Linked DNA regions of Homo sapiens: region 1 is linked to region 2. Evidence: fine-mapped expression QTL. A gene starts in region 2. The other region holds a variant in brackets. All regions are shown on one strand. Distances are from middle to middle.

Evidence for each region. PIP is the estimated chance that this variant, and not a neighbour inherited with it, causes the effect.
Region 1: its variant is the best candidate, but not a certain one, in a credible set for the expression of MAPK8 in sigmoid colon (GTEx, PIP 0.71).

The regions. Positions count from the first base shown.
Region 1 is chr10:48,450,927-48,456,299 of GRCh38, forward strand. It overlaps ARHGAP22 (Rho GTPase activating protein 22), which reads right to left. Exons shown (of 10, transcript NM_021226.4): 6 at 4,076-4,208; 7 at 3,162-3,235; 8 at 2,378-2,499; 9 at 1-214. Among named protein-coding and RNA genes, the nearest start is that of ARHGAP22-IT1, 58 kb to the right of the region's middle. RefSeq lists an enhancer at 3,118-4,095. The variant T/C (reference allele first, on the strand shown) is at 3,001.
Region 2 is chr10:48,303,616-48,308,988 of GRCh38, forward strand. MAPK8 (mitogen-activated protein kinase 8) reads left to right here and starts at 3,062. Exons shown (of 12, transcript NM_001323329.2): 1 at 3,062-3,206. RefSeq lists a silencer at 2,693-3,642.

The sequences.
Region 1 (5,373 bases), 150 kb after region 2:
ACGGCCGCCCCGTCCAGGGAAGAGGTCCTGTGCGCGGGCAGGCCGGGGCCGCCGGGCTCTCCTTGGCTGTCCCTGGTGACCTCCTCGGAGCCCCACCCCACTGCGCATTGCAGGCCCCCGCGCGGGGAGGTGGGCCCTTCCGGGACCGGTGCCGTGAAGAGCTGGCTGTGTTTGCGGATGAGGACGGTCATCAGGTGCTGGACGAGGGAAGTGCCTGCCGGGAAGAGAGGCGGAGAAGGGCCTTGCTGCCAGCCACTCGGCCCAGGCTCGCTCTGCCAGTCATGGAGAAGCTGCAGCTTCGTGGGAGCTGGCCCTGTCCCCAGAGCCAGGCCGCCCCTCAAGGGAGCCTTCATCCGCCCAGAGGAAAGGACCACACACCCTCCAACTCCAGGCAGGACAGCAGGATGGGGCCGCAGAACCGCCTTCCTCAGGCACAGAGCCGCAAGCAGGGAGGAAGCACTGTGCCTGCGCTCACGCCCTCCAGCTGGGGTGGGGTGAGGAAGCAGGCACCAAGGCTGCACGGTGAGCAGGTGGCAGGTTGGAACTGGAACCTGGGACCTGAGATGCCAGAACTCTCTCGGCTGCCCCACGTCACCCCTCTGTGCTGCTGACAACTGCCATGCCTGAATGTCCACACTCTGGGAGCATAGGGCTCTGGGACAGGGAATAGAGCCATCTTTCCTGTGTGGGGGCACACACATACAATTGCACACACAATGCACCCCGCCCACCCCCTAAAATACCCCCCACAATCACACGTACAATGCACCCCATCCACCCCCAAAGTCCCACACACACACACAACTGGACAATGCACCCACCCAGCCTCCCCAAATCCCCCAACACACAATCGCACATACAATGCCCACTCCCGAAAATCCCACACACATAAAATTACACACACAATGCACTCTACCCAGTTTCCCCAAAGCCCCTACACACACACAAGTGAACACACAAATCCCCTACCCAGCCTCCCCAAATCCCCCCATACAGAATCGCACAATGAACCCCACCCACTGCCCAAAATCCGCCACACACAATTGCACACACAATGCACCCTCCGCAGCCTCCCCAAATTCCCCCATACACAACTGCACACATAGTGCACCCTGCTCACCCCCCAGAATCCCACATACATATAATCTCGCACACACACAATCCCCCGTGTCTAGGCCAAGGCCCCTGAGATGCAGCCCCCAGTCCTGGGGACTCAGTTCCTACGGTGGTGGGGTGGGGGCCTGCAGCGGAGGTGGGCAGTGCAGGAAGGACCAGGGCATCTATCCAGCTGCCTCATTCCCTCCTGCCACCCTCACCACAAAGGCCCGACGCTAGGAGGTCCCCCGGTAGGAGGGAGGGCTGAGTGCCAGGGTGGACTCTCCCACTGAAGTTGACTAGGAATCCTGGAAGAAGTCAAGGAAGGAATTCTGAGGCCAAGAACCTAGGTGAAGCAGGAACTCCATGAAGCAGGCAGGGCAGGCCTCCTCCCTCAAGCATCTGTACCACCAGGCAGGTAGGAGCTTGTGTTTTCCTGGCCTCAAGGGGCCCTGGGGTGGGAGACCCAGCCAGGGCTGACCAAAGTGCGGACTTGAGCAAAAGCACTCCGCCACGTCCCTCAACATGGGATAAGGGCAAGAACAGCCTCAGCTGTGGGCTTCCTGTCTGAGCAGCACGTCTCTCATGCATACTCCACTGGGGACAGTGTTCCATGGGCCCTATGAGGTGGGCTGTCTTTTCTATGGCAGCCTACACCTGTGCCCTTTGCTAAGTCTGGCTGACTGGCCTCTGGTGAGTCCCCTCGCCTCTCTTGGCCTCAGTTTCCTCATCTGTAAAGTGGGGGCGATTACCACAGCACAGGCTGGTTGTAAAGCCTGAAATGAGATGATACAAACAAAGCACTTGGTAGAAGCTTACTGAAAGCGGCTGCTGTTGCTGCTATTTTTAATCACTTATTGTTATTTATCATAGAGAAATTCTCCAGGGTTTGCAAAGCTGACATCCAGGAACCTATGACAATTGCTTAATTGTAAAAGAAAAGCAAACATGTCTGTGTTCAAGGGCAAAAGTGCTGACCTCTCCCATCCCTCCAGCCTCTTCCATCCACAGAAACCCCTGGCTATTCTAATTGCACCCAGTGACCTGCTGCTGCCCATCGCAGGGCAAAGTTCCTTTTTTATCTTATAGCTGAACCTCATGGGGGTCGGGGGTGAGGTCTGCAGAAGTTCCTGCCAAGTCCCCAGAGATGGAGATGTGCCACCTGAGCCACCCCTCCTGCTGGCCTGGCCCTGGGCTGGGATGGTTCCAAGGACTTGCCGTGGACCAAGATGAGCCCAGACCCCGGCAGCACCCAGGGCCACCAGGTACACCTCCCACTTACCTTCCATGATGGTTACTGGGTCCTCTACCTGTGGCCGCAGAATGTTAGGTCCAAAAACGGTTGCCAGATTCTGGACACTCATCTTGTTGACATTTGAGTATGCCTGAACTTCATCCAGAAACCTGCAAAGTAAGGAAGCAGCAGTCATCAAAGAAGCAAGTTGTGATGCCCAGTCTCCTGTGTGCGGCCTGGACGCACCGCCACACCCCTGCTGAGCCCTGCTGCCTGTGGGCTTTTGCCCACTGGGTGTAGCCTGCCTCTGCCAGGCTCGATGAGGGAAGGCTTCCCCTGGGGCCCAAGAGGGCCATCAGAAGTAAAAGTCACTGGGACAAGGGCCCACCGCTATTTGTGTGAAAGGAGGACAAGACTCTGCAAATTGTAGTGGGCACAAATTCTGGGAAGTCCCAGACCCCAGTCAGCGCCGCCCCTGCATTCCCCTTCTCAGTGTCTAGGATGGGGATACATGAAGGGTTGGGGTCAAGGGGCAGATGCCGGGGGGACAGGATGGCAAGAGGCACCCAGGAGGGACAGAGGGTATGTCCCTTCTGGAATTATCTACCCAGGTCTGTTTAAAACCAGCTGCTCCCATGGGACTGTAAGCTTCGTGAACTCAGGGTCTGTGC[T/C]TTTCCACTCCCTGCTTCGTCCACGCTGGGTTGAGGCTGTGCAGGGTGGGGAATGACCCGGGCCCCCCTCTGACAAGGAAGAGTTGCGTGTCTCGCTGTGGGGTTGGGGGAGCGTGGAGCCAGTGCAGGAAAGTGTGGTTCCCTCCTGCCAAGCCGCTTACTTGCAGATGTATCTGAGCAGGTTGTAATTTGCCTGAGGAAGGTTGCTCACTTGTTTAGCCAACTCCAGAGTGCCCTTAGGAATGAAGAACAGAATTTCAAACACCGGCAATGAGGGCCCTGACTGTTCTCTGACTGCGAGGAGGGGTGGGCAAAGAGAAGGGAGGTGGGGGCTACGGCAGCCCAGCCCCAACAGACCAGAGGGCTCCACCACCTCCACCTCCCCTCAAGGAGTGGCCAGGGCCCAGCTGTGACCTCCTGGGAAGCTAACTTGCTTCCAAGGAGCTGGTGTGAGGGGTGAGCCTCTACAGGGCCCGTGGAGGAATGTCAGGGCCAGCACTCAGCTCACTTATCAAGACACAAATATTTGCCAGATAGTGAGCCCTCATCTCCCACATGGCCGCAGGGAAGGCAAACAGTCCTTCCCTGGCCCTGAGCCACCTGGGGCTGCAGACCAGCACCTGCACGGGTGGGGACGGGAGGGCTGGCTCATCTGTCCTGGGAGCCAGCTCAAATTCTTTTGGGAAGGAAGCAAGATATAAATAAAAGATGTCCTGGTTTCTGAGCCTGTGACGGGCCTGAGTGGCCTGAGTCGGGTGTGGGGAGTGTGAGCACCTACTGGTGTGACAGCCAGAGCTGGGCACACCGGACCCACCCCTCCCAGGGACCAAGGCCGCAGACAGGTATGGCTCCAGACAGCAGGATTCCCCAGCCCTCCCCGACCTGAGCAGGATGCCCTGGCCCCTCCCCCACCCAAGCAGGATGCTCCAGGCCCCCACCACACCCCCAACACAGCAGGCCTCCACAGGATCCATGTGCCATGAAAATTCATGAAAAGTCAGAGTCTGTGTCCTGAGTCTACAGGCTGCCACCCAGCCAGCCCATCTCCCAGGAGCTATCCCCAGGAGCCACTGACCTCCCCCTCGTCCTTGGTGAGCAGCTGGGCGCAGCTGAGGAAGTCCTCGTACCTGGCGAAGGGGACCACGGGCTCGGGGAGCTCCCGCAGGTACAGCTTCAGCAGGGAGGCCACCGTGTGCACGTCTGTTGTGCTGTGGGGGGGAAGAGGACAGGTGTGTGAGGCCTGGGATGCCAGGGGACTTCAGGGGTGACTGGTACGCCCTGACGCCAAGGGGCAGCCTCTGGTCTCAGGTGCATTCTTGGGCGCACTGGGGGCTGCATCTGCGGCCAGCTGCCCTGGTCAAGGAAAGGCCAGTGCTGCTTCTGGGAGCAGTGGATAGAGCTGGGGCAGGGACGACTAAGTATCCATGGCCAGGAGCTCCAGCTCAGGGACCACCCATCATGCCTAGGCACCTGCTCAGAATCCCTGAGTCTCATGTCTGTGTCAGTCCGTCCAGAACCTGTCCTGCGTAGACTGCGTAGGACTCCAGGAACTGTGAAGCCACAGGGCCCTGCAGGGCACAGCTGCTCCACCCTAGCAGCTGCCCTGGGCCAGAGGAATCAAGTGTGATGCAGGTCAGGTTGCACAGGGGAGGGCCCTGGGACATGGGCCAGGGAGCCCCTTCCACAGGCCTGGTGGCCATCCCAAGGTCCCCTGCAAGACGATGTGGGAGCTGCCTGCTCTGCGGTAGGAACAGCTATCCTGCAGGCCCTCCATAGGTGCTGCCAACCCCCAGCCCGAGCTTGCCCTCTCCACTGCACTTGACTTTGGCTGGAGTGGGAGGAGCTGCATCAAAGGCGCCCACAATGCAGGGCTGCTGGCTCCTTGTTGGGGAGCAGGTATCCGGGGACCAACAGCAGGAGCAGGTCGGAGGTCAGGCCCTTTCCTCTCTTCCTGTCCACAGTGGTGACACCTAGGCTTCTAAGCTCATCACCCCCTCTCCAGTGCCCCAGGAGTCCACTCCAGGCCTCAGTCTCCCGCTCTGGCTCGGAGCTGCCAAGGCAGAAGTAGACCAGTTGTGGATGGTGGTGGCAATGGGCCTGGCATAGTCCTTCCCTGGGTCCTGTGTGGGGTCTGCAGTTCAGGTCCTAAACGAGAGCCTTGGCATCTCCTCCGAGCTTGCGTTCCAAGCCGTATATGGGCCCCAGGTTGTTCATCTGCTTGTCTAGAACCATGGACTTAAACCCTGGGCTGCATTTCCCTCAGGAAAGATGAGACGGGGCCAGGAGACTGTGGCTGTGCCATTATGCTATCACCTGATCCCGGATGAATCCCAGGCTAGGCTCACTGAGATAAATACCTTCTGGCCCTGACAT
Region 2 (5,373 bases):
CTATATTTTCCTCTTTTTCTGAGTCAGCCCCTTAATAGGTTAACAAGGAACCCTAACAGGTTGACAAGAAAGAATTGCATGAAAAGGAAGAAGAAGGCCCAACACTGCATCTGGGTTACAGAAAAGCATTTTGAATTTGCAGAATATCAGAGATAATTACATTCCATCAGAAATAGCAAAATGCTTTCTGAAATCAATCATACACACACACAAACACACAAACGCACATATGTAAATATGTGGAATGTTCTTTCTAGTTGTAGATAATCAGAAGCTGACCATGGTAGACTGATACTAAGTCAGAAGCTCACTCTGTGGAGTGAGACAGAGGCGGTTATTAACAATAGCATCACAGAACTGGGCGTGAAACTCTGGAGCTCTGCTCCCAGCAACTCCCCTCACTTCACAACAGCTCTAAGGGTTGTATTGTTTTTTGTTACCTCCAGGCCTTTAATTTGTCTGGTGAAGAGTAGGTGGTACCTCTGTCTGTGCACTCAATCACACCCCGTTCTCTCTGGAAACACACGTCTTCCTTCTCTTTTGTGTGTATTCAACCTCTCCCTCTCAACAGTCTTCCCATCAGATGTAAAATATGCTTGTGTCCTACTTCACTGCCCGACTCATCCATATTCACCACCTTTATTTTCTCACCTCCCATTCATTTCCCAGCCCACTCTAATTCACTTCTGGTTCTATTACTCCAGGATTCCAAGCCTCCTCTTATGTTTAATATTATTGATCAGCCCTTTCTTCTTGAACACCTCTCTCCTGGTTATCCTTCTATCTCCCTGGCAGCTCATCACAGACTCATCTTCCCCTTTGTGGCCCTTTAACACTGAAGTTCCCCAAGCCTGGTTGCAGGCCCTCTCCTCAGGCCTAGGCTGACCCATCTATCCCAAGGCTTCAAGGAATCACTCACTGTCAATGATTCGTCTCTTAACTAGCTGAACCTCAGCTCTGTATATCCAACCACCAACTTAACATCAGTTTTGGGCATCTCAAAAGCCTTCAAACAGCCAAACAGCCTGCTCTCATGATATTTTAATGCCAGTCTGGTCCTTTTCCAAGATTCCCATCTTGGTAAACCAGCACTAACATCCATCCTTGGCCACAAGCCAGAAACCTTTGAGTTTTCCTTGATGACTCCCTCTCCTTCATTGCCCCACATAACCCATCACTTGGAGAATGTGCAAGTTCTGCCCGTTGGACCTCCTAAATAATTCACAGATCTTTCCATGTCCATCAACTATTTCCATGACCATCACCCTAGATCAAGCTTCCACCTCTTACCGTCTAGGCTACTCCTACATCCACCTGGGCTCTTTCCAATAAGGAATCTTTTCAAGAAGCTATTCTGACCATGCCACACCCTTTGCTGAATATGTCAGGGGCTTCCCATTGCACTTAGGATAAAAAGATTTTCAACATGGCCAATATGGATGTCCTACGTTTGGTCCCTTTACCAATCTTCCTGACTTCATCTCATAGCTCCTTCTTCCTTGCTCCTCCAGCAGAGCTGGCCTTTCCTGAATTTCTCCATCTTATCCTGCTTAATCTCATCAGAGGACCTTTGCGTGCAAAGCTACCTCTAAAATATTCTCTGTCTAGTCAAACCTATTCCCAGCTCAAGTGACAGTTCCTCAGGGAAATCTTTTCTGGCCTTATTAACTAGTGTATTAATTGGTTTCATAGTATTATGTATCCTTAACAATTTGTATTATAAAACAGTGATAATTTTGCGTTTACTATTATTACTTTCATAGTACAGTGATTAAATCTGTAAACTCTACTGTATTGCCTGGCACTGAATGGGCATGCAATAAATAATTATTGCAGGAACAAAGGATGGCAGGAAGGAAATTAAGAAGGTTGAGAGGGAGGGAGAGAGGAAATGGGAAGAGAATGAATGAATAATCATCTGTATGTTCCCTTTCAGAATCACCAGAAACAGGCCAGCCCCACATGTAATAGGAAAGTAGTTTACCTGAAATCATTCATTTATTCAACAAATATTTATATATTCATTATTAAAGTAACTTACTTGTTTCTGATTGTGAACATAACTATTCCTCTCGGAAAACATGAGAAAATACCCAAAGTATAAACGAGAACCAAGTCACCCTTTATTCCATAGTCCAATGATGAACCATTGTTAACATAATTTGGTGTATTTCTTTCCAGGTTTTTTCTATGTGTATATATAGTATCTAAGTGGGACCATTCTATATATGACTTGTTTCTTGCTTCTTTCTCTTAATGATACATTGTGAACATGTTCCTATGTTGTTAAGAATTCCTTGAACACATGGCATTTAAATTGCTAAAATGTATTCTACCGAATGGTGTAGGTAGTTCAAACGCCTTTCCACCCGTTGTTGGATATTTAAAGGACTTGTCAATTTATCGCTTCTGTAACATTTACACGCTTTGTGGGGCCTCAGAAGTAAACCAGGTAATGCAAGGAATCTGGGAAGAGGTGGATTTGCAAGGAATCTCGGAGGAGGTGGATTTTGGAAAAACTGGAGGCAGCTTTTCCCGGGCAGCTGAAGAGAACACTTATCTCTCTGTAGGTTTCTGGGACCCGGACAGGTGTCCTCAGAATGGAACATATTGTCGGTCAAGGTAACCAGCTCTTCATCACTCAGGTGTGTGTACCGGAAGGGGGTGCCTGTTCGCTGCGCAGGTTAGGCCTAAGCGCACCTGCCCTTCAACCCTGTGCCGACGAGGCCCGAAGGCTTAAGCTCTGACCTGGCTACCGCCGCCAACCAGATGCGGTCCCCTGGGGCCACGCGCCGCCACGTGCCGCCACAGGGCCCGCCCCTCCCGCTCCAGGCCACGCCCCTCACCCACAGCCCTCGGAGGCTCTCTCCGCGGCTCCGCCTCCAAGCGACCTCCGCAAGTCCTCTCGTAACCCCTGGAGTAGCGCCGTCCCCGGGCGGCGGCCCCGCCCCCGCAATCCGGGCCCCGGGGCTGCCCCGCCCCGCCGGCCGCTCGGGAGGCGCGGGGGCGGGGCCCTGCGCGATGACGTGCGCGGGCGTGCGCGGTGACGGCCCGCGTCTCTGTTACTCAGCCGAGCGGCCGAGGCCGGACGACGCGGCTTGGATTGCGGAGCCGCGAGCAGCGCTGGGTAACGGCCGCGGCGACCACCCCGGACGGCCCCTGTCCCCGCTGGCGGGCTTCCCTGTCGCCGTTCGCTGCGCTGCCGGGTGAGTGCGGCGGACGCCGCAGGGCCGGGACGGCAGGCGGCCCCGTCGTGTTTATGTTATTGTGCCGCTGCCGCCGCCGCCGCCTTCTCCTCAGCCGTAACCCCCTCCTGGGAGTGGGGGCGGGAGCGCGCGGTGGGCGGGGGCGGCGCGGGAACAATAGCGGCGCGGAGGCGGGGGCCAGCCGAGGGGGCGTGGGGCTGCGGGACCTGGGTGCGCTCCGCTGCCCGCCAGCCCGCCTGCCGCCGCGAGCCCCGCCCGCCTGTCCTCTCGCGTCCTCTTCGCGTGGGTCCTGCCTCCGCGGCGGGAGAAGAAAATGGAGCGGGGGGGTGGGTGGCAAGTTCTGAAACACTTCGGCAAGGGTCGGACGGAGGTGTCTTTGCGGCCCGCCGCGCCCTGGCTGCCTCCGGGGCGGCGGGGAGCCGGGGAGAGCGCTTCTGCCGGCAGGTCCCCAAGCCTGCCCCGCGCCCATAGGGACCGTATTTTGCTTCTCGATGCTTTCTTTGTGCTAACGTTCTGGGCGAACGCAGGCAGCAGCGCTGAAAAGGGCCAGAGTGGCCTGCAGCTCTGGGCTGCAGGGCAGAGAGCCCAGGCCCGTGGCTCGGGTGGGAGGTGTCCATCCAGCTTGGCCCGAGCTTCGGTGGTCAGCGCGCATTTCTCTTGAGGGTCATCGGTGGTGACCTTTTGACTTTTTCACCCCACCCTCCCATCTCTTTGTCTCGCATTTGTGTTCCCGATTCAGAGATGGTAGAACCAAGTCCATTTTAAAGTACCCTGATGAACACTTTCCGTTTTTATTTCTGAAAGTTCCCTGCTTGGTCTTTACTGCGAATTTAATAACATGTTGACTACATGGCATTGTCCAGTGATTACTATTTTTACCTCTGAAATCCAGCGATCTTTCCAGTAGAATTCTGGTCCGTCAGTCCATTGTGTTTTGAGATAAGCATCCAGCAAGTACCTCCTTGGCAATTAGAACATCTGTTTTTTCATTCATTCATTCATTCAGCAGCTGTTTAGTACCGTACTCAGATGAAGAGGTTTGGTGTGAAGGTAAAGTATCCTTTCATGGAAGAGGATGCTTTGACTGAAGTATAATAGATGGACCTTTAAATGAGACAGTTACATAAGTGATGTCTGTTAAGGAAGGTATGGTTATATTCTGGGTCATTTTTTAAGCAGTATATCTGGAAGTTCAAGTGTAATAGGAAGTAGAATTAGATTTGGTCTAAATATACAACAGCTTTTATTTATTTCTAAATTTTATTTTTTCCAGTCTTGCAGCCTTACAGTCATTTGTAATGGTTACCTCAGATTCCCCTGCTGTGGTTAACGTTAAACCTAGGAGGTCAGATGCTCTAAGTGAACATGTTTAGTGCTGTGCCTGACAAAAGCAAGCAATCAAAATGGGACTTCCTTGAGGGCAGGCCTGTCTTGCATCTGTTTCTCCACCACCTAGCCTGGAATATAGTAAGTGTTCAATAAAAGTCGGATTGATGAAAAGCTCTTTGTAATTGATAATATTTAAAATCAAGCCTTAAAAAAAACCGTAATGTTCTCCATAAAGTTTTGGAAGCTTCATGCAACTGTCGCATCAGATGGCTAAATGGTCAGTTCATGTACATTATCTGTTATGATGACATGGGCTTTTGAATCACGTGTAGGTCATTCACTGTCCTAAAATAAAATCTTGTCTAAATATTTTTTTAATATGATAAATAAAGTAGGTTGTGGAGTGTGTGTTTCTGTGTATGTGCTAGTTTATGTGTGTCCGTGTGTGTGCATGTACGTAATCCACACACAGGCACTCATAAACTGGTATTTCAGTAGGGGTCTAAAATGATTGCATTTATAATTTTGTGAATATTATTTGAAAGTTTTTTGGTGACTCTTATTGTGGAAAATTGAGGACAAAACCACATAAATGTTTTATTAGAAATATTTCTAATATTTTAGAAATGTTTACTTGAAATGTTTGGTTTTAAGTTCTAACTTGTATTAACACAATTGGTACAAAATATGAGCCTAAAACTCAAAATAATTGATTTATCGAAGTTAAAGCTCTTTTCCACTTACTAAATACAGTTTAGCGTTTGTTTTGTATTTGAAAGAATATGAAATGAGTTAACTAATGAGTTTCTTATTATTTGCTGTAAAGTGGAAATGAAGA